Linked DNA regions of Homo sapiens: region 2 is linked to region 1. Evidence: fine-mapped expression QTL. A gene starts in region 1. The other region holds a variant in brackets. All regions are shown on one strand. Distances are from middle to middle.

What was found. PIP is the estimated chance that this variant, and not a neighbour inherited with it, causes the effect.
Region 2: its variant is the best candidate, but not a certain one, in a credible set for the expression of DOK4 in thyroid (GTEx, PIP 0.67).

What each region holds. Positions count from the first base shown.
Region 1 is chr16:57,484,929-57,487,689 of GRCh38, forward strand. It overlaps DOK4 (docking protein 4), which reads right to left and starts at 1,565. Exons shown (of 9, transcript NM_018110.5): 1 at 1,377-1,565. RefSeq lists an enhancer at 818-1,614 and a silencer at 1,446-1,745.
Region 2 is chr16:57,438,344-57,441,366 of GRCh38, forward strand. It overlaps CIAPIN1 (cytokine induced apoptosis inhibitor 1), which reads right to left. Exons shown (of 9, transcript NM_020313.4): 2 at 2,429-2,640; 3 at 839-991. The coding sequence starts at 2,585. Among named protein-coding and RNA genes, the nearest start is that of CIAPIN1, 7.5 kb to the right of the region's middle. The variant C/T (reference allele first, on the strand shown) is at 1,800.

The DNA of each region.
Region 1 (2,761 bases):
TCTAGTTAACAGCTCTATCCCAGCTCCCAGAATGGTGCCCGGTGGGAAGGAGATGCTCAATATTTGGGGGCTGAACACGTAATTCTCTCCAGGACTTGTCCTCCTCCCCATCCTTTCTTCCACCACCACCAGCCTCCATCTGGCTGGACCTGGCTCAGCTTCCAGAGGTGCGTGAGCCACAGTGGGCTCCCAGCTCCTGGGTCTCAGCGCTGACTGGCATGGCCAGCAGGCTGTTGTTACTGGAGAACCAGCTGTGCCCAAGACCCGCAGTTTGGTTCAGAGCTGCCTCAGGGAAGAGCATGCTGCTGACATCGAGGCCAGGCCTAGTTGGGCGGCCCCACCTTGGCCAGGGTTGTGGGGTGAGGTCATGCCCAGCCCTGCTGCCCTGCCCAGGAGGGAAGTGCTGGGAGTAACCAGTACCAGCACAGCAAGGCAAGCAACTGGGGAGAGGAGGCACAGCTCCTGGGATCAGAGTTGGGGGTGGGGGCAGGAAGAGCCTGTACCAGCGCCACATCCCTCTGAAAGGGTCCAGGAAAGAACCTGCCCTAAGCAAGCCCACCTCACACTGCCCAAGTGGAGTCTCCTAGAGATACTGCCAGGCCCCTCGCTGCCCTGGCCATCAGACCCCTCCAACCCACACCCTCCATCCAAGCGGAAGCGCCCCAGCAACTGACGTGTCCCCATGGCTTGGGGCAGGCAGGCTGCACAGAGCCCCTGCTCTGCCACATCACCCAGGTGCCCAGCCTCGGCTCATGCCCCTTTTCAGTAATAGAAAGCATGTAACTGGATCTAGGGCCTTGCGGGCCCTGGGGGAGAAGGTGGACAGGACCTTGGGGGCCAATGGAGAAAGGTTCAAGGACAGGAGGCAGCTGGCCATGAGTTTGGGCTGTGGGGAGAAACCCCATAGGCAGGAGGGGGTCGGCAGTGGGGGCCAGCTGGGGTACAGAAAATCATCTCTTGGAATTTGGAGGAGGTGAGCGAACAGGAGGCCCCGGGGAGGAGCAGGAAGGCAGAGAGAAGGTTGGGAGCTGCCAGGGGCTGGGTTATGCCCCTTCCGGGGGGGCAGGCCCGGGAGCGCAGGGCCTGGGTTGCTCGGATGAGGTTTGTGTGGGTGCGGGTGAGGTCAGCTCGCGACCTGGGCTCCCCCGGAGAGGAAAGCTGCGGGTGGAGAGAGCGCAGGGAGTTTCAGGGCCCAGGCACTGGCTTTTGGGGGGCGGGTCTCTAAGCTCCCCACCCGAGAGTAGGAAGGTCCCATGGGACGGAGCGTCCTCAGGTTCAGGAAGTGACTGAGGGTCCTCAGGGGTGGGAGTCGCCGAGACTCTTGCAGGCTCTGGGCGGCCTATGTCCCCCTCCCTGCCTCACGCCCCCCAATTTACCTGGGCGCCGAGGCCCGGGCCAGGAGCGCCTGCTCAGCGGCGCCGCGGAGCAGGCTCATGCCCGCGTCACGGCGCGGCTGGCGGGGGCGGCAGGGCGGCGGCGGCGCCGGGCTCCAGGCGGGGACGGCGAGGGAGGCGCGGCCGCAGGGCTAGGGATCGGGCTCCGGCTGGGGCTCCGGCTGGGACTCCGCTCCGCTCCCCCCTCCGCCAGGTCTCGCCGCTGCGCCCCGCCCCCTGCCCCGCCCTGGCGGCCGGCCCCCGCCGTATTCCTCCGAGCCGCGGGACGCGCGATTCTGCCCTGGCGCCCTGGCACCCCCGCACCCGCTTCAGGTCGCCCCCGGTACCCCCAGCTCATTCCCACCGCCCCTCCCTGGGCCCCAAAGCCCACATGGCCTCTCAGCCCCTGAAAGCTGAACTCCACATCAGCTCCCAGCCCCCACATCTCAACCCCTTCACTTCTTCAGGAATCACATACACACCCATACGCCACATCAGCTCCCAGCCCCCATATCTCAATTCCTTCACTTCTTCAGGAATCACATACACACCCATTGCTCCCCTAACCCCATCATGACTCTCTGGGCCCTCACAGCCCAGCTCTCCCAGCCCCACAGTGACCTCCTCTGCTACCCCTCCTCAAGTAGCCGCACCAGCACCTCTGTCTTCCCTGGTCTCCTCTCCACCCTCAAAACATCCAGTTCTCCCATTCTAGGTCCCCCTGAGACTTTGCCCTCAAGCTCAAACTTCATTCCCCTTCATTGCTGCCCCCACCCAGCCCCCAACCCCCTCACCTCTGCCCTTCGGGCCTGTGCAGTGGTTGACTCACTGATCTGTCGGAATCCCCAGTCACAGGCCTCAGCTGTGCCAGGCAGGGACAAGAGAAGTTGCCCAGTGCCTCCTCTGGGGAGGAGCTGTCCCCCCTCTGGTTTTCACGTCTGTACCTTTTTACACCAGGGCTTCTCAAAGTGTAGTCCCTGGACCAGAAGCTTCCCATCACCTTGAAACTTGTTAGAAATGCAAATTCCCTGCCCTACTCAGACCTATGAAATCAGAATTTTTGGGGGTTTCCAGCAGAAATGTGTGTTTTAACAGGCCAGGTGATTCTGATGCACACGAATGTGTGAGAACCACTGCTTTAGACCATATATACAAAACAAAACAATAGGCCACCTGAACAGCCAAAATCCTGAGAAATGAAAATACCTCCACATCCAGCTACTGTCCAGGTGTCTCAGAGGAATAGGCCTAAAGCAGTGAGGGACCAAGGATCCCAACACCCACCCATGGAATGCATGCCCCTGCCCCGGAGACGCCTGGGCCTCAGCCTTGCCCAGGGAGCTTAAAAGGAGGCTGCCTCTGGATGTCTGAAAATTTCCCTGATGGTC
Region 2 (3,023 bases), 46 kb before region 1:
CCACATCATTCCCAGGGTTCGGCCACTATTTTTAAACTTTTAATTTTGAAATAACTATAGATTCACAGGAAGTTGGAAAAAACAAAAAAAAGTTCTGTATATTAAGGAGGTCTTCACTTCGTCCCTCCCCACAGTTAACATCTTACCCAATTATAGCATGATATGAAGACCGGGAAATTGATATTGATGGTCCACATAACTTTTTCAGATTTCATTTCTTTTATATGTACTCGTTTGGCAGAAGGGGGCTATATAGTTCTATGTAATTTTATTATATGTGTAGATTTGTGTAACCACCACGACATTCAGAACACAGAATTGTTCTATCACCACAGGAACCCTCATACTACCCCTTTATAGCTCCACCAACCCTTTCCTCCCACTTCTAACCTCTGGCAAACTCTGATCTCCACCGCCACAATTTTGTTATTTCGAGCATATGAATGGATTTGTACAGTACAGAGCCTTTTGAGATTGGCTTTTTTCACTCAGCTACTTCCCTTGATATCCATCCAAGCTGATGTACATATAGTTAGCTAGTTCATTTTTATTGCTGCATCACTTTCCATATTATGAACATATCAAAGTTTATTCACCTGCAAAAGGACCCATTTTTAGATGGCAGTTTCCTTCTATTTTATTACATAATGAGTCAGCCAAAGATTACAATTTCTCCAGATATGTTGCTTCAGATTTTAACAATAATTTATCCCCAAGGAAAAGGTTTTGCTACAGGAATACTGATCTCCCAATGATACCTCCTGCTCACGGAGATGCAGCACACATACTCTAAGACTCAACCCTGTCAAACATGTTTTCCAAGTGAAGATCTCCTTACCTACAGCTGTCTCTACTGGCTCCTTCAGAAAAAGACATCCACCAGGCCGAAGGATCCGGGCGATTTCAGCCAAAATCTCAGCACTGTGCAGAGTGGTGCTTCCTGGGACTAAACCTGACAAAATAATGTCAAAGCTGGATTCTTTGTGGGCAGCTGAAAAGAAGAGGACTCTAATTAGCAATCTCCTGAGCCTGGGATAATCTCCTGGTCCCTTCCAACCCCCAACAAAAGCTACAGACCTCACCCTGAGAGAATGGACACCACTCGATATCCATCCAAGAAGCTGGATGAATAGTAAGTGTTTTAAAAAAACATGGAATAGCTACCAAGAAAGAACATACTTATGGAAATCATCAACTACACTCCTAAGCTCTGCTGCAGGAAGTGAGGGACCCCAAACGGAGGGACCGGCTGAAGCCATGGCAAAAGTACACAAATTGTGAAGATTTCATGAACATTTATTAGTTCCCCAAATTAATACTTTTATAATTTCTTACGCCTGTCTTTACTGCAATCTCTGAATATAAATTGTGAAGATTTCATGGACATTTATCACTTCCTCAGTCAATACTCTTGTGATTTCCTATGCCTGTCTTTACTTTAATCTCTTAATCCCGTCATCTTCATAAGCTGAGGATGTATGTTGCCTCAGAACCCTGTGATGATTGCGTTAACTGCACAAATTGTTCATAAAGCATGTGCATTTAAACAATACGACATCTGCGCACCTTGAAAAAAGAACAGGATAACAGCGATGTTCAGGGAACAAGGGAGATAACCATCAGGTCTGACTGCCTGAGAGCCAGGCGGAACAGAGCCATATTTCTCTTCTTACAAAAGTGAATAGGAGAAATATCACTGAATTCTTTTTCTCAGCAAGGAACAGCCCTGAGAAAGAGAATGCGTTCCTAGGGGGAGGTCTCTAAAATGGCCACTCTGGGATGTCTGTCTTATATGGTTG[C/T]AGATAAGGGATGAAATAAGCCCTGGTCTCCCGTAGCACTCCCAGGCCTGTTAGGACGAGGAAATTCCCACCCAGTAAATTTTAGTCAGACCAGCTGTCTGCTTTCAAACCCTGTCTCCTGATAAGATGTTATCTATGACAATGCGTGCCCGAAACTTTATTAGCAATTTTAATTTCGCCCCAGTCCTGTGATCTCGCTCTGCCCCCGTTTGCCTTATTTTATTGCCTTGTGAAGCATGTGATCTCTGTGACCCACACCCTATTCGTACACTCCCTCCCCTTTGAAAATCACTAATAAAAACTTGCTGGTTTTGCGGCTTGAGGGGCATCACGGAACCCGCCGACATGTGATGTCTCCCCCGGACACCCAGCTTTAAAATTTCTCTCTTTTGTACTCTTTCCCTTTATTTCTCAGACCAGCCGACACTTAGGGAAAATAGAAAAGAACCTACGTTGAATTATTGGGGGTGGTTCCTCCGATATATCTCAACTGAAAAACAACAGGGTGACCAGCCACCACTATCACATGCCACCCTAAATGAAAACTCAGATATCAAGGAACCACAGAAATGCAACACTCCCATGGAAACCCCTCCAGCCTCATAAAGACAACGTGGGTGGGTACTTACATTGCAACAGCTGCTTGATGTTTTCCACAGACACGCGGCCCTCATTGCCGGTTAACGCTTGAAGCTTATCCACCAGACCTTTCAGAGCCTCCACTGGGGATGACTTATCCCAGACCACTGCCACAAACTGGCCAGCAGAGATCCCAAAATCTGCCATTCTTGCAGTGCAGTACTGACAGACCTAAAAACTGCTGGCCAAAAGGGAATCAAGACTGGGCAGAGACAAAGTGCAATTTAATCTGTGAGATATCATAAAATATGATTAGAATCCCAACCTAACTTGTAACCGCCCACTAGGGAATGCTGACAACATTAGAAACTCTACTGTATATGCTAAAGAGTCTGAATACATGAACCCCATTATCTCAAGTCTTCATAAGCCCAACATTCCCAAAGAAGGCAGATAGCTTCCTTGGTGAGAATCCTGACTTGGAAGAGTCAAGAAAGGGGATTAGAGGCAAGTAAGAAGGTTGGAGGCAGAAAGATGATTTCCTCTTTGACCTAAGATAATTCAGCATGAACGGAATGGAAAACACACAGGACATCAATTAGGCAAAGTGTGACTTGGCAAGGAAGGCAAATAAATTGACAGAAA